2 separate regions of the Homo sapiens genome follow, and region 2 is linked to region 1. Evidence: fine-mapped expression QTL. A gene starts in region 1. The other region holds a variant in brackets. All regions are shown on one strand. Distances are between the middles of the regions.

What was found.
Region 2: its variant is fine-mapped to the expression of MORF4L1 in whole blood (TOPMed, PIP 0.98).

What each region holds. Positions count from the first base shown.
Region 1 is chr15:78,868,580-78,876,915 of GRCh38, forward strand. It overlaps MORF4L1 (mortality factor 4 like 1), which reads left to right and starts at 4,311. Exons shown (of 12, transcript NM_006791.4): 1 at 4,311-4,478. The coding sequence starts at 4,439. RefSeq lists silencers at 4,083-4,342, 4,753-4,812, 5,814-5,923 and enhancers at 4,898-5,529, 4,923-5,162, 7,388-7,989.
Region 2 is chr15:78,907,365-78,915,700 of GRCh38, forward strand. No RefSeq gene overlaps it. Among named protein-coding and RNA genes, the nearest start is that of CTSH, 34 kb to the right of the region's middle. The variant A/C (reference allele first, on the strand shown) is at 3,763.

The DNA of each region.
Region 1 (8,336 bases):
CTGTATTCCCAGCTACTCTGGAAGCTGAGGCGTGAGGATTGCTTGAGCCTAGGATTCCAGGCTGGACACTCTAGCCAGGACAACATAGCCTGGCTGTGTTGACACGCTACCCTGGACAACATAGTGAGACCCTGTCTCTTAAAAAAAAAAAAGAAAAGAAAAAGCAATGTGCACAAAGATTAGATAAATCTTGAAATATTTATACTATGGTATGTCGAAAGCTATTGAAAATGTGAGGGACTCATGTTTGTAATCCCACCACTTTGGGAGGCAGAGGTGGAAGGATTACTTGAGGCTACGAGTTGGAAACCAGCCCAGTCAACATAGCGAGAGCACATCTCTGCAAAAATAAAAGTATTAGTTGGGTGTGGTGGCATCCACCTGTAGTCCCAGCTACTGGGGAGGCTGAGGCAGGAGGATCACTTGAACCCAGGAGCTGCAAGCTGCAGTGAGCCATGATCATGCCACTGTGCTCCAGCCTGGGAGACAGAACAAGACGCTGTTTCAAAAAAAAAAAAAAAAAAAAGGTGAGATAGGCCTGTATGTAATTTGAACAATCTCCAAGATATATTATTATGTTAAAAAAGAATACAACTGGGCCGGGCGTGGTGGCTCACGCCTGTAATCCCAGCACTTTGGGAGGTTGAGGCGGGCGGATCACAAGGTCAAGAGATCGAGACCATCCTGGCCAACTTGGTGAAACCCTGTCTCTACTAAAAATACAAAACTTAGCCGGGCATGGTGGCGGGCGTCTGTAATCCCAGCTACTTAGGAGGCTGAGGCAGGAGAATCGCTGGAATCCGGGAGGCGGAGGTTGCAGTGAGCCGAGATCTCACCACTGCACTCCAGCCTGGCGAAAGAGCGAGACTCCGTCTCAAAAAAAAAAAAAAAAAAGAATGCAACTGAACAATATGTACAGACCATTTATGGTTAAAAAAAAAAAATGGAGAAAAATGCACACGCCAAATGGTGGGAAGGTAAATGGGGGGAGCGGGGAATAAACATGTTCCTTAAGTTTTGCCCTGTATTTTATATTTCTCAATTGTTGCATCATGAGCCCAAATATTTGAATATTACCTGTGTAATTAACACATAAAGGCAAATAAGTTAACTTCAATACAAAAGAAGAAATAACACAAAGAGGGTTCTAGGATAAAAAAACTCATGGATTCCCAAACAACTCATAACAGTGGGGGAACTGGGCAGATGAGGGGTGGAGGTGGGAAAGAGACTTTCACTATTTTCTTTTTTTTTTTTTTTTTGAGATGGAGCCTCACTCTGTCGCCCAGGCTGGAGTGCAGTGGCGTAATCTCGGCTTACTGCAAGCTCCGCCTCTTGGGTTCATGCCATGCTCCTGCCTCAGCCTCCTGAGTAGCTGGGACTACAGGCGCCCACCACCACGCCCAGCTAATTTTTTATATTTTTAGTAGAGATGGAGTTTCACCGTGTTAGCCAGGATGGTCTTGATCTCCTGACCTCGTGATCCGCCTGCCTTGGCTTCCCAAAGTGCTGGGATTACAGGCGTGAGCCACCGCGCCCGGCCCACTATTTTCATTTTTGTATTTTTAAACGTTTGGATTAAAAAAGTATGTGCAGGCTGGGCGCAGTGGCTCACGTCTGTAATCCCAGCACTTTGAGAGGCCGAGGCGGGTGGATCACCTGAGGTCAGGAGTTCGAGAACAGCCTGGCCAACATGGTGAAACCCCATCCCTACTAAATATACAAAAATTAGCCGGCCATAGTGGTATGCGCCTGTAAACCCAGCTACTTGGGAGGCTGAGGCAGAAGAATCGCTTCAATCTAGGAGGTGGAGGCTGCAGTGAGCTGAGACTGCACCACTGCACTCTAGCCTGGGTGACAGAGTGAGACTTGGTCTCATAACAACAACAACAACAAAAAATTGGCTGGGCGCAGTGGCTCATGCCTGTAATCCCAGCACTTTGGTAGGCCAAGGCAGGAGGATCATAAGGTCAGGAGATCGAGACCATCCTGGCCAACATGGTGAAACCCCATCTCCACTAAGATACAAAAAAGTAGCTGGGCGTGATGGCACACCGAGTCCCAGCAACTCAGGAGGCTGAGGCAGGGGAATCGCTTGAACCCAAGAGGCAGAGGTTGCAGTGAGCTGAGACTGTGCCACTGCACTCCAGCCTGGCTACGGAGCGAGACTGTCTCAAAAAAATAATTTAAAAAAAGTACGTATTTTATATTCAATAAAAAATTTAAAAGTGTACAGGACAGTTTTGGTGGGGTGGGGTCCAAAGAAGCCCTTGTCCCTTTTTACAATTTAGCAATGGTGTCCAAGGGAGTGAATACAGTCATGGGTTCTTAGTTTCTGTTTCTGGTTGGGCCAGTAAAGCCCCTTCCTCATCCCCCTTTTCCACTTATCACTAGAGACTGAAACTAAAAACCATGGCTTCAGGGTGCTAAAAGCCTAAACAAAACAAAACAAAACAACAACAAAATAAGACAGGTTGGACAAGCTTGCGAGAAGTAGTCGTGACAAGATGGTGTATATTCAACTGGAATAAGGAAGGTTTTTGTGGGTTTCTGTTGTCAGAGAAGGGGTTGTGTTAAAAAGACTGAAGGAGAAATGGAAGTCAGATAAATGGAGAGGGGCCCGGAATTGGTGGGGTGTGGAACCCGGGCAGGGGAGGGCTTAGAAAAGCCATGGAGACAGGCTGGGCGCAGTGGCTCACGCCTGTAATCCCAGCACTCTGGGAGGCCGAGGCCAGCGGGTCACCTAAGGTCGGGAGTTCAAGACCAGCCTGACTAACATGAAGAAACCCCATCTCTACAAAAACACAAAAATTAGCCCGGTGTGGTGTCACATGCCTGTAATCCCAGCTACTCGGGAGGCTGAGGCAGGAGAATCGCTTGAACCTGGGAGGCAGAGGTTGCAGTGAGCTGAGATCGCGCCTTTGCACTACAGCCTGGTTAATAAGAGGGAAACTCCGTCTCAGAAAGAAAAAAAAAAAAAAGAAAAGTCATGGAGACAAAGGTTTGCGTAGGAGGATAAAGGTTTACATAGGGGATGCAGGTAGGCTAAGGGCTGTTTGTGGAAGGATTTAAATACCAGGCTAAGGACTTTGAGATTTATCGTCTAAAGTTCATTGAGCACTTATTCATTGTTGGGTACCGCGCTAAGCCCGTATATGTAATTCTCACAATAAACTGACGGAAATGGTGCTATTTTGCAGCTTAGCCAACAAAGTTGTTTTTGAACAGGGAACGACATAAATCCGTTTGTTTAGGCCAGGCACGGTGGCTCACGCCTGTAATCCCAGAACTTTGGAAGGCCAAACCGGGCGGATCACGAGGTCAGGAGTTCCAGACCAGCCTGGCCAACATGGTGAAACCCAGTATCTACTAAAAATACAAAAATTAGCTGGGCGTGGTGGCACATGCCTGTAATCCCAGCTACTCCGGAGGCTGAGGCAGGAGAATCGATTGAACCTGGGAGGCGAAGGCTGCAGTAAGCAGAGATCGCGCCACTGCACTCCAGTCTGGGCAACGGAGCGACACTCCATCTCAGAAAAAAAAAAAAAGGTATAATATTGAAGAAATCCGTTTGTTTAGAGTGACAAGAAGCACAAACAGGGCAGGTACGGAATACAGACGTTGACATATTCACACTAGCCTTTTTCAGAAAGCAGAGCTCCATTATCTCAAAAAGCTAAAGCGTGACTAGTGTTTCCCACGTCATCATCCTCATTTCCGCAAGGCTGGGCTGGAGAAGAGGAGGTAGACCTAGGAGCCAACAAATGGCTATCAATCCCACCAAATAGGCTCCGCAGTGGGGTTGCTAAACAACGAAGCTTCCAGAAGCGGACCCCAGTTCCCACCCTCTTGCTGATCCTAAAGCCTTTCTATGCAAAAACTAGCGGAATGCTATTGAATGTAGGTTTCCGAGCCAGCCCTATTCTCTCCGACTACTTCAACATCAACGGGGGCTTATTTGCCCAAGGGACGTCGCAACTGGGCCTTTCCCATTCTATTATCACTGGTGGCTCACCACCCCCACTCTCCCCCATCGCCAGCTCCGCCTTAACCTCCCACGAAATCAAATCCCCGCTTTACCAACCCGCAGCAGCCGGGGGCATGGAGAGAGAAGCGGGGGTGGGGTGGGGTAGGGTAGCCGGCCCCTCCCCCACCCGGGGGGGGGGGGGGGGCGCCTCCACCGACTCCGAACTACCAGTCCCGGCGTGCCCTGGGGCGGCGCGGGCGCAGGGGCGCGTGCGCGGCGGGCTGTCGTTGGCTGGAGCAGCGGCTGCGCGGGTCGCGGTGCTGTGAGGTCTGCGGGCGCTGGCAAATCCGGCCCAGGATGTAGAGCTGGCAGTGCCTGACGGCGCGTCTGACGCGGAGTTGGGTGGGGTAGAGAGTAGGGGGCGGTAGTCGGGGGTGGTGGGAGAAGGAGGAGGCGGCGAATCACTTATAAATGGCGCCGAAGCAGGACCCGAAGCCTAAATTCCAGGAGGGTGAGTGTGCGCCTTTGGGAAAAAGGCACCTAACGGCGCAGGAGATAGAGGCGGGCTCGAGGTGATTGAGGCTTGAGGGCCGGGGGCGGCGCGGGCTGCGCCCTGAGAAGGCGGCGGTCAGTGCTTTGTGCGGGGAAAGCGCATTGCGGATGGCAATTCCGGTGCGTCATTGTGAGAAAGCGCTTTGTGAAGCGAGAGTGCTGCGCAGGCGTTAGAGTGGGAGAGAGAGCGTTTGGCGCGTGGCACACCCTCGTCAAGTGTTTGTTATTGTTCTGAGGAAGAGGGCGCGGAGAGAGCAGCCTATTGTAGGGAGGCGACGGGAGCGCCATGGCGGCGGTTAGGGGAAGTGATGTGGCGGCGGGGGGGGAGGGGCGGTGGCTGTTTCGGGCGGTCCTGCGGCGCGCCCGGCCGCTTGGGCAGCTACGACGGGTTTTTCGGTGCTTCCTGGAGCCCCGGGGTGGTTGCGTTCGGTGGCAACTCAGCTGCGGATGGGGGTGGGTTTGGCGCCACGGGGCGGGAGAAGTGCGTTGTAAAATGGCCGTTGCAAGATGGCGGCGCCATCATGGCCGCCGGCGTCTCGGTCCCGTATGGAGGCACAGCTTACGGGCAGATGCAGCGCCCCCTTCCACGACGACCAGAAGGTTGCCGGGGCCCTCCGCATACCACAGAGTGGTGGGTGGGGACAGAAAAAAAAAAGTGAGATGAGCGTTTTCCTCCGCTTTGTGTTGCCTGGAGGCATCACTCTGCTATTCTTGGGCGCAGTGCCGAGATCCTATGGTAATGTGAGTGAGCTCTCGCTTTGCAGTTGCTCGTAAAAAGTAAATAAAAATGATCTGAATGCAGTGTTGACGCCGTTTGCATTTGTAAGTCCCATTGCCTCGACGTCATTTTTTAAATGCAGTAATTGTTTGATTAGTTGCAGTGTTTAACAATGACTTGAAAGTTGAATTTCTTTTTATTAATTGGTTTTCGATTGACATGAGTTTTGGGTAAGGTTAGACTGACTCCCAGTGGAAGGCAGCTCTTTAAATTTTCACAACGCTTCAGTTAACGTATAATAAGGTGGAGGTCTAATAGCTAAAAAGGAAGTAAAGTCCTGTTGAGAAAGGAGGAACACTTTAACATTCCTTTTCATTGCTATGGAAATTTATGCTAGTTACCGTAAATACGATGTCTACATGCGTACGATTTTTGTTCTAGGGGTTTTTAGACTTGCATTAGAATTCCTTTTAGAGCCGTAAACCTCAAACCGTAGTACTGCGTATTTTAAGTTTATGGAATATTTAAGGAGGTTTTAGGGGTATTTTGTTAATGAGTGACTTTTTTTGTTTGTATTTTTGAGACGATGTTTGTCACCCAGGCTGTAGTGCAGTGACGCTATCTCGGCTCACCTCTGCCCCCCACCCGGGCTAAAGCGAGCCTCCCAAGTAGCTGGGATCACAGACGCGCGCCATCACGTCCGGCTAAGTTTTGTTTTGTTCTGTTTTGTTTTTTAGGGTTTTTGTTTTTTCTTTTCTTTTTCTTTCTTTTTTTTTTTTTTTTTTTGTATTTTTGGTAGAGACGGGGTTTCATGTTGCCCAGGCTGGTCTCGAACTCCTGGGCTTGAGCGATCCACCCGCCTCGGCCTCCCAAAGTTGTGGGGGGTTAACGGGCGTGAGGCATCGCTCTCGGCCGTGTGACTTTTAATACCCCTCTCTCACCTTGAGAAGCTGTTGACTCTACCTCCTATGGGTTCATTATTTTACTAGACATTTTAGAGCAGATATTCTTAATCTAGAGTCAGTGCATTAATTGAGACGGTGCGTGAAATTGAGGAAGATTTTTTTTTCTATCTCCCAAGTTTAGTATTTCAATTAACAGTGTAATTGCTCCCCCTAAACCCCGAAAAAAACCACCACATTAGCATTTTCAGTATATTTTCATATCTCAACATTACAGTTATGGAAGATGTTTTCAGTTATCGCATTCTTATTTCTTCAAAATTAGGGTAGTTATTGTATTAGCAGCCAAGTCTTGTTTGTCCTGTAATGTCATAGAACGTGACATTTAAAGTGTTTTGTTTCAGTACAGTTGGTTTCCTTTGTACTAGTGTGTGTTTTATGTATTTATGAAACTATTAGGCTCGTAGGGTTTATCAGACTGTCAAGGCACAAAAAGTTAATCGCTGCTGTGGGAACAACCTAAGGATGGCTGTTCTGGAAGAAGCGCTTTAGTTCTAGAGGGTTGCTAGTTAAGAGAGGAGTAGCAGCAGAGATTTCCTTGTGCCGTTTTAAGTGGGGTAATTGGAGAAGAGTAGGAACCAAGGTATCCCCAGGTAAGGGTTTGAAAGCTGTGTAAGAGAGTCTGTATTTAACATTACTTTCCAGGTGTGTTTTGTACTTGTGTTTAAAATGGAATTGTGTAACCACGTTTTAAAAATGATTTTAGTGGGTGGGGCACGGTGGCTCACGCCTCTAATCCCAGCACTTTGGGAGGCCGAGGTGGGTGGGGGCGGTGGATCACCTGAGGTCAGCGGTTCGAGACCAGCCTGGTCAGCCTGGTGAGCCTGGTGAAACCCAGTCTCTACTAAAAATACAAAAATTAGCAGGGCGTGGTGTTAGGCTCCTGTAATCCCGGCTACTCGGGCGGCTGAGACAGGAAATCGCTTGAACCCGGGAGTCGGAGGTTGCAGTAGGCCGAGATCCTGCCATCGCACTCCAGCCTGGGCCACAGAGTGAGACTCCATTTCAAAAAAAAAAAAAATTTATTAATTAGATGATCGGAGAATATCTTGCAAGGGAAAAAGAATATTTGATGAGTGCTAACAGAATCGTCTTGAAACACTGTAGAGTTTATGTAATGGTAGAGAAAAGAGTGGCGAGAAGTAGTGTTTTTTTGTTTTGTTTTGTTTTTTTCTTTTTGAGACAGTCTTGCTCTGTCGCCCAGGCTGGAGTCCAGTGGCGCGATCTCGGGTCACTGCAGCCTCCGCCTCCTGGGTTCAAGCGATTCACCTGCCTCAGCCTCCTGAGTAGCTGGGATTATAGGCACGCGCCACCACGCCCAGCTAATTTTTGTATTTTTAGTAGAGACGGGGTTTCACCATGTTGGCCAGGATGGTCTCGATCTCCTGACCTCGTGATCCGCCTACTTCGCCGTCGCAAAGTTCTGGGATTACAGGTGCGAGCCACCGCGCCCGGCCGAGAAATAGGGTTTTTAATGATTCTTGTAAACTTGTTAAAAAAAAAACAACTCGTAAACTTATAAAAAAGTTTTTTTTTATTTGATAATGGCGTGCAATATATGTTGTATAAGCAATTCTTAAGGCATAGTGATTGCTTTGCACTGGACTTGGTTTTCCATTGGAAATTCTTTTTTGTTTTGTTTTGTTTAGATTTTGAGACGGAGCATTTGCTGTCCTGGGTCATACTCCTCAGCTAGCTGTATATTTTTTCAACAAAATACTAGGGCCTCGTAGCTAGAATGGAGGTCACAGGGCCTCGGTTTCAGTGCACTTTTTTTTCCGGCAGTAGCAGCCAAGGGGAGAAAAATGGTAGGCCATTTTCAGAGTGCCTTTAAAATGTACCAGGAGAGTGAAATTAGGAAACACAGATCTGATCTGATCTTGTTCGCTGTTTATTAGCAGTATAGTTTACCCATTTTAGTTCTCGTTCCTGGGCCGTTGGAGAAGTCTTTGATCTTCCCGTTTTCCAGTCTCCGTCTTTAATTCAGAAATGCTATTCGTAGGTCCAGCAGCCTCTAGCAGTGATTCTTTATAGAGTGACCACTTAAAAGAATTATAGAACTGATTTAAAAATAAAGTTAATAGGTCGTGCTCTGGGAGAGTCTAATAATATGGGTCTTTGGTGGGGCTTGAAAATA
Region 2 (8,336 bases), 39 kb after region 1:
GGCTGAGAGCAAAGGAAACATGGAACAGGCAGGAAGAGGAAGAAATATCAACTACATAGGGTCTTAACGACCAGTTATGAAGACAAGATGAAGACAAGGACTATAACAGCTTTGTGCCTTTTTTCATGTTATAGAATAATCAGATGGGATTACATTTGAATTAGAAAAGTAATTAACATTGCACAGGGAGGGATACAGACTGTTGACACTGGTGAAGAGGATGAGAGTGTCTACCTTTGTATGAAGGATATTGTATCTTACTAGGCCACAGCATGAAGTGGTGGTGTTATGTGGTGATTAAAATATGTGTGGAAGGGTGTATATGGATGCCTAGCATCCTAAGGGGAGGACTGAGTTGGTTATGAAGTTACTGGATCTCAGCTCTAAATCCTGCTCTGTGATCCTGTGGCTGGGACCCTAAATTATTTGTCAGCTGGCTTCTTGTTAGGTTCTGCCAGTAGAGGGCATTAGAGGGACACTGGAAGGCAAGGGTCGGGGGCCGGGGGTGGGGGGTGGTGCGGGGGAAGGGTCTTCCTCCTTCCTGGTGGCTTGCTGTTCTGTTAGCTGCCTGACAGCAGCTGTTGGGTCCAGTCTCTATTTTGGGGGTAGAGGGGGGATGCTCAGAAGTGGCCTCAGAGGTTCCAGCACCCAGAACAGTTTTGCCTTCATTCTCCTCCTTTGCTCCTTGTAACACATATAAATCACCTCTTGGGGGTTTCGGAATTGCCCAAGCTGAGAGGTAGCAGTATCTCCTTGTTATAGTTATCACATTTCTATATTTCTTCCAGATGGAGGAAGGATTACAAAAAGGCAAATGGCCAAATCTTGTTTTACTGGGGCAGGCTTTTCCAAAGGACCAGGCAGAAGCACCATTTTATTTATTTGTTTTAATTTAAAAAAAAATTTTTTTTTGAGACGGAGTCTCGCTTTTTTGTCCAAGCTGGAGTGCAGTGCAGTCTTGGCTCACCACAACCTCCACCTCTCATGTTCAAGCAATTCTCTTGCCTCAGCCTCCCGAGTAGCGGGGATTACAGGTGTGTGCCACCATAACCCAGCTAATTTTTTTGTATTTTTAGTAGAGACGGGGTTTCACCATGTTGGCCAGGCTGGTCTTGAACTCCTGACCTCAAGTGATCCGCCTGCCTTCGCCTCCCAAAGTGCTGGGATTACCATTTTATTTTAAAACACAATTGTGGTTATATTGTTTTGATTTTTTTGAAAAGCTTTACATGAGATTTGATTTCTGGCTGTCTTTTGCTGCGCTAACAAACTGTCCCAGAACTTTATAGCTTAAAACAACCATTTTGTTTTGCTCATACCTTTCTGAATCATGAATTCAGGATAGGCTTGGTTGGGCAGTTCATCTTTGATCCATTTGGCGTTAGCTGCCGTGGCTGAAATTGTGGAGGATCTGCTTCCAAGATGGCTTCTTCACTCATGTATCTCGTACCTCTGTGTTCCTTGGCCCCTCTTTCCTCGACACAGCATCTCAACCACTGAGGGCTTCTCTGCATGGTTTGCACATCTCATACTGTGACTTGCCAGCCTCAGGCTGGTATCTCAGGACTCCAAAATTACATGGTATCTCAGGACTCCAATAGTGAGGGTTCAAAGAGATAAGAAATGGAAGCTGCCAGGCTAGTTAAGGGCTGTGGTTGAAAGTACTGGTTTTTTTTTTTTTTTTTTTTTGGGACAGAGTCTCACTCTGTCGCCCAGGCTGGAGTGCAGTGGTGCAATCTCGGCTCACTGCAAGCTCTGCCTCCTGGGTTCACACCATTCTCCTGCCTCAGCCTCCTGAGTAGCTGGCACTACAGGTGCAAGCCACCATGCAGTAGTCTTTACACTTATTTATTTCTTGACATTTAGAATATTGGAAACAATTAAGAAAATCAGAATTGAAAATGAGGAAGAAGAAATGTGAGATGAATGGTTGGTTTCAGAAGAACAGAAGCATGTGCGTTTGTGATGCAGCCTTGGGGGAGAGAGAGAAGGGCAGCTGAGCCTGGGATATGCTTCCAGTCCTGGGGAGGGGTTTGGGTGGTTGCTGGTGGTGTGTCTAGGGGTGATTAAGTTTAGACAAACCTCTGAGTGTGTGCGTGTTTGTGTGTTTGTGTGTGAAGAGGGAAGTTTGGTATGTCCTTGACCTGGTGCTCTGTGGCATAAAGTTACCATGGGCAGAGCTAATGGCAGATTGTCCTGGGCCTAGGAATGGTCTCAGCATTGCAAAGCTCCCTGGTGAACCTGAGCAATAAAGGTAGCACGTTTCCTCTATGCTTGTGACATATGTGAGGGCTACATGGTTTCCTTCAGGAACTAAGTCAACCTGCCCTTTCTGACCCCAGAGCCGGAGACACAAGGACTCACTCTGGGTGGACTGATCTGGGACCCTGGAGGTTCCTGGTACAACCTGTGTCCACTTGGGACACATTCTTGCACTTTTACTTTTCCAGAGGATTGTGCAAGCCTTTACTTCCATAGGCAGAGAATCTCATCCTTCCCCCTTGATCACCCTTCTCTTCATTATCCAAGAATTCCAGTCTTTCTGAAGCCATACTGGGAGACCAGAAAATTAGATGTGCGCATTATGTTACCATAGTGGCCATAAGGTGTCGCTGTTGTAAGGGTTTCCCCACAATCCATGGGCTCAGCCCATTCCGCCCACCTTCACAGGGCCGAGGTGGCATCCTACTCCAGTGCCCTAAAGCTGCTCCTCTCTTGGCCACCTCATGTTCAGCCATCATCCCTCACAGTAGGACACCCACCAGAGTTTCCAATCCTGCAGCAGCTTCACTCAGCCTACCCACTGTGCGAACCTGGCCTCTGTGAAATTTTAGATCCTGAACTGGGGCCAGCCTCCTCTCCTCCCCTCCCTTCTGAGGGAGTCCCCTTAAGATCTTTTCCTGCCGTGAGCCTGCTTCAGCGCATCCCAGACCACCCGAATGGCTGTCCCCAATTTCATCTCTGGGTTCCTGTGCAAATTGGTCCACCTTGCACCCTGGAATCCCGAGAGAGATCGTCTTTGCTGAACTACAAACAGCAAACCGGAGATCTTGTGTATAGCATTCCCCTAGAACAACACACACTGACTTTACATTCACATAACCACGGGAAGTTGGTCACATGATTTTTCCCATAATAATGAAAATCTGTTCTCTGTCTCTAGCCTAGACTTACTCTATCACTCTACATTTGCATAATTCCCTTAAAATGTTTTAAAAATATGCCAAGAACTATTTTTTAAAAAGCATCCCATAATATTACCTTTCAGCTACTCCCTTGTATCGGCTAGGCTCCCTGAGAAAGAACACAGTCTACTGGGTACTGTGAGGGGAGCTTGATAAAGGACTTGTTTACCAAGGTGGACAGGAGGAGGGAACCCACCAGGCCTTAGATGGGGCAGTGCCGTAGATGGAGTTACGTAGATGGAGCTCAGTTACCACCCTGGGCCTGGCGGGCAGGGCCAGGTCTCCTCACAGCATAGTCATTTTGAATCACTTTCAGACTTTTTAAGAATCCTAAGGACTCTGCATCCTCTTTGGAGAGGCAGCAGAGAGGGAGGCTGAGAACAGATACTCTGGAGCTGGAGGGCTCGGGTATAAACCCTGATTCTGCCACTAAGCAATTTTGTGGTTTGGGGCAAGTTGCTTAACCAATCTGTGCCTCGGCTTCCTCATGTGAAAGTGGGGATCATGATAGTATCTACCTCACAGGGTTGCTGTGGGGAGTTAGTGTGCTGTATATTTCTTAGTGCAGTGCCTGGCC[A/C]ATAAAAAGTGTCTGTTAAACCAAGAAAACACCAGTGTTTGAGCTGAGCTGATTAACCTGCTTCACTCGCAAGAAGGAAGGGCTTCTCTCTTGCCCTTTGATAGAAGTCAAAAGACCAGCATCTCTGTAGGCTCTCAGAGTCCCTCAGGAGCATAGGGGAAATTGCTCTGTCAGTTTTCTTTTTTGAGACGGAGTCTCACTCTGTCACCCAGGCTGGAGTGCAGTGGTGCAATCTCAGCTCACTGCAACCTCCGCCTCCCTGGTTCAAGCAATTCTCTCGTCTCAGCCTCCTGAGTAGCTGGGATTACTGGTACCCGTCATCATGCCTGGCTAATTTTTGTATTTTTGTAGAGATGGGGTTTCACCATGTTGTTCAGGCTGGTCTTGAACTCCTGACCTTGTGATCTGCCCACCTCGGCCTCGCAAAGTGCTGGGATTACAGGCGTGAGTCACCGTACCTGGCCTACTCTGTCAGTTTTACCATCTTCTCCTTAGGTTTCTGGCGCAGGGGCTTTGGGCTTGGCAGGCCAGGAGTGCCCTTGGGCGGGGTCACCACAAGGGCTGCAGCCCTGATTCAGTATTCTTAACCAGCTGGTGGGATGCTTCCTCCTCTGTCCCCCATGGTTGCTGTTTCCCAGGAGGCCCTGTGGTCCTTCATGCAAGTTGCCTTTGGCCCCGCTCTCCAAGTCAGTCCAGGCTAATACAGCCTCATGCTGAAACTCTTGTGTTTACCTAAACTCTGAGTGCTGTTTGGATGCTAGGAACAATTACTAAAGAAAATGTATATATACACAGTGGAATGCTATACAACCTTTAAAAAGGAAATCCTGCCATTGTGATAACAGGGATGAACCTGAAGGATTTTATGCTAAGTGAAATAAGCCAGACACAGAAAACAAGTACCGCATGATCTTCACTTATACGTGGAATTTTAAAAAGTTGAACTCATAGAAGCAGAGAGTAGAATGTTGATTAGCAGAGGTCGGAGGGGGAGATATAGGGAAAGGGAGATATTGGTCAAAGATGTTGGTTTCAGACATTTTAGAGATCTGTTGCACAGTATGGTGACCATACATTTCAAAATAGCCAGAAGACTAGATTTTAAACATTTTCACCACAAAAAAGGGTAAGTAGGTGAGGTGTTGGATATGTAAGTTTGATTAATCTTTCTGCAATGCGTACATATATCGAAACATCACATTGTACCCCATAAACATGTATAATGATTGTCTGTTTAAAAAAGTTTATATTTCATCCTGAGTTCAAAACCCGTAACTGAATTAAGTGACTGCTGGTGGGAACCAGGTAAACCTTCCATTCAGCTTAACTTTTGAGATGAGCTTGGCATTTCTTGATGTTGCTAGGGGAAAAACCTCAGGAGTTGTGTTGTAACAGGAAGTTAAGAGTAAGATTGCTGATTTCATTCATTAGTTCAGTGAGTTTCTGTAATGAAGAATATATGTGTACCCATAAGAGTCAATATGCATGTTTACTTTGTAAAGAAAAAAGCATTTCATAACGAATGACTTGAATTTGGCCTCTTGGTTTTTTGTGTAATTACATGTAATGGAGACTGGTTTATTGCTGACGGTGGGGTCTTCCTGGTTCATTGTAGTGGTGCTTGTGAGCTGGGGTTTTATCCTAATGTCACTCTACCGTGGGAAACGTAATGATCTGTTTATTTGGAAGCCTTAGAACAATGCTACATCTCTAAAAAATACTTTGACCTTAAAATTTCAGGTCATACACCCATTATGTCAAGTAGATGCTGTAATCCTGTGAGGAAGGTGTTAGTCTCACCTCCATTTTTGAGGCTCACAGCAGGAGTTGGGAAGTAAGGAGGAAGAGCAGTAAAGATTTTAGGAGTTAGACCTGGGTTTGAATCCCAGCTCTCTTGCGTTAGTTGTAGGGCCTTGGGAAAGTGAATCATTCTCCCACCTGTAAAATGAGGATATTAATAAATCCTACCTTATAGGTCATTGTAAGGGCTGGAAGTAATAAATGTGAAATAGCATAGTCCAGCATAATACAGCAAGGACACTGGAGTAGGTTTTTATTGATTTTTGCTCATGGTGATAAAGTGAATGGCTGAGCTGGAATTTGAACCCAGGCAACCAGAGGCCACCACCATTTTGTACCTTCTTTGTGTTCGGGTGATGATTAATTCCCACGAATGATGGCATGGCTCCTGCTGGAGCTGTGAATGCCTTCTGCTCTGGAAGCCAGTGAGGATTCCTGAATCAGTTTCTGGGCCTCCACCTAGCACATGTTCTGGATGAGGGGTCTGGCACAGGTGGCCACCAAGAGCAGGGCTAGTGACCCCAAGAGCAGATGAAGGCTTTATGTACACCAGAGCACAAGGCAGGTGGACCCAAATAGGGTGACCACTTTCTGTTGGTACAGCTGGCTGCATCAAAGTGAAAATGCGGGGCCCCTTGTTCAAAAAGCAGGAAACCAGGCTGGGCACAGTGGCTCATGCCTGTAATCCCAGCACTTTGGGAGGCTGAGGTGGGTGTTGAAGACCAGCCTGGCCAATGTGGCAAAACTCCGTCTCTACTAAAAATACAGAAATTAGCCAGGCATGATGGTGTGCGTCTGTAATCCCCGCTACTGGGGAGGCTGAGGCATAAGAATCACTTGAACCTGGAAGGTGGAGGTTGCAGTGAGCTGAGATCACGCTACTGCACTGCAGCTTGGGCAACAGAGCAAGACTCTGTCTCAAAAAAACAAAAAACAAAGCAGGAAACCAGTGCCATTAAAGGTATGAGAAAATACAACATATTTTCTTTTCTCCTGTGGCCTCTCTCTTGACCTCTCATAGTGTTTTCCATGTGTTATTTAATATTGTACTCCCTTGGACATAGGGAGAATTGCCTGGCAGGTACAGGCTGTCATAGGCATCTGGGGTCCTGCTGTGCAACTCCATGTACACATGGCCCATCAGCCTCCAAACAAATACCTGGACCTAGCCGGGGCAGGAAGTCAGTCTCCCCCTTCCATGGACCTGCTGTTCCTACTCATGCAGACAGGTGGCCCACAGGGATTGCAGCCTCTGTGCTGGAACGTGTTTTATATCTCGATCGGGCGGGTGAGAGGTTCACTCCCACTGAACCTGGCGTGCCATAGAGCTGCCAGCCTGGGTCAGGGGTAGCCACCACCATGCCCCATCCTGAGCTGCTATGAAGCGTGCGTGCCTGGCTCCAAATCCTCCCGATCTCTCATTCAGGCTTCTGCCATGTGTTAGAGAAGTGAGTGGCTCAGAAACTGGCCAAGAGAGGCAGGAAGGTGGTGGGAGGTGGTAACACGTGTCAGCCAAGGCTCCACGCCCCCTGGCATGTGCTCCAGTTGTCCCCTTGGACTCACTTACAAAAACACATGTTCAAAGAGAAAATAATTATGCATGTTAAGATGATGACGGCAGAGCATTAAAACCCCAGTGCTGTATGACTTCACTGGTCATATGCCCTTGGAGCCAGCCCTGCCTGGCCATGTTCCTGAGGTTTTTTGCAGTTTTAATAGCACTAAAAGTTCCAGGTCCCAGAAGTACTCTCAGTCCCAGGCAAATCGGGCTGGTTGGTCACCACACACCCAGAACAAGGCTACTCCCAGCCTAAATTCTTCTTCAGTGATCTTAGCTAGAATTTGACAACCTAGAAGGAAGCTATTAATTTTTGCATGCATGTACATTTGTGGCATTTCTTTTTTTTCTCTTTTTTTTTTGAGATGGAGTTTTGCTCTTGTTGCCTAAGCTGGAGTGCAATGGTGAGATCTCGACTCACCGCAAACTCCACCTCCCGGGTTCAAGCGATTCTCCAGCCTCAGCCTCCCAAGTAGCTGGGACTACAGGCATGCGCCACCATGCCCGGCTAATTTTGTATTTGTAGTAGAGACGGGGTTTCTCCATGTTGCTCAGGCTGGTCTCGAACTCCCAACCTCAGGTGATTCACCTGCCTCGGCCTCCCAAAGTGCTGGGATTACAGGCATGAGCCACCATGCCTGGCCCATTTGTGACATTTCAAGCAATATACATTTATTCTACATTTTATTCACACACATATATCTAAGTAGGAGAAGGGGCTTAATCTTCCCAGATCTTAGGACTGCTGAAGTTCTTCAGCCTGGTCCCCAGCAGGGTAGCTTCTGTGCCCTCCAGTAGTGGCTGAATTCACAAAAGGGGGCAAATCAACTTGCACCCGGCTCTGCAGGAGTGGACATTTTTGCACACGCCCCTGAATCACTCCCAGAGGCCACCAGCAATTGTACCAAAGAGAAGGTTCCCGTACTGAGGAATCCAGCCCTTGTCACAGGCGTCTGGTTGGGTGGAGCATGTGCTGGCTAGGGCCCAGACCACCCCAGGTTCCTCTCCTATGGCTTGTAACCATGGGCAAGCCACATCATCTCACTGAGCCTCAGCTTCCTCTTCTATAAATGGGACTATCTTGCCTCATAGACCAGGAGGGAGGACTAAAGGAAGTCAGATGACTGGAGTGCCAGAACAGAGCCTGGCCTGCACTAGGTGCTTAATGAATAAGAGCTTGATCTATGCAGATGGAACTTTTACAACAGTCCCACAT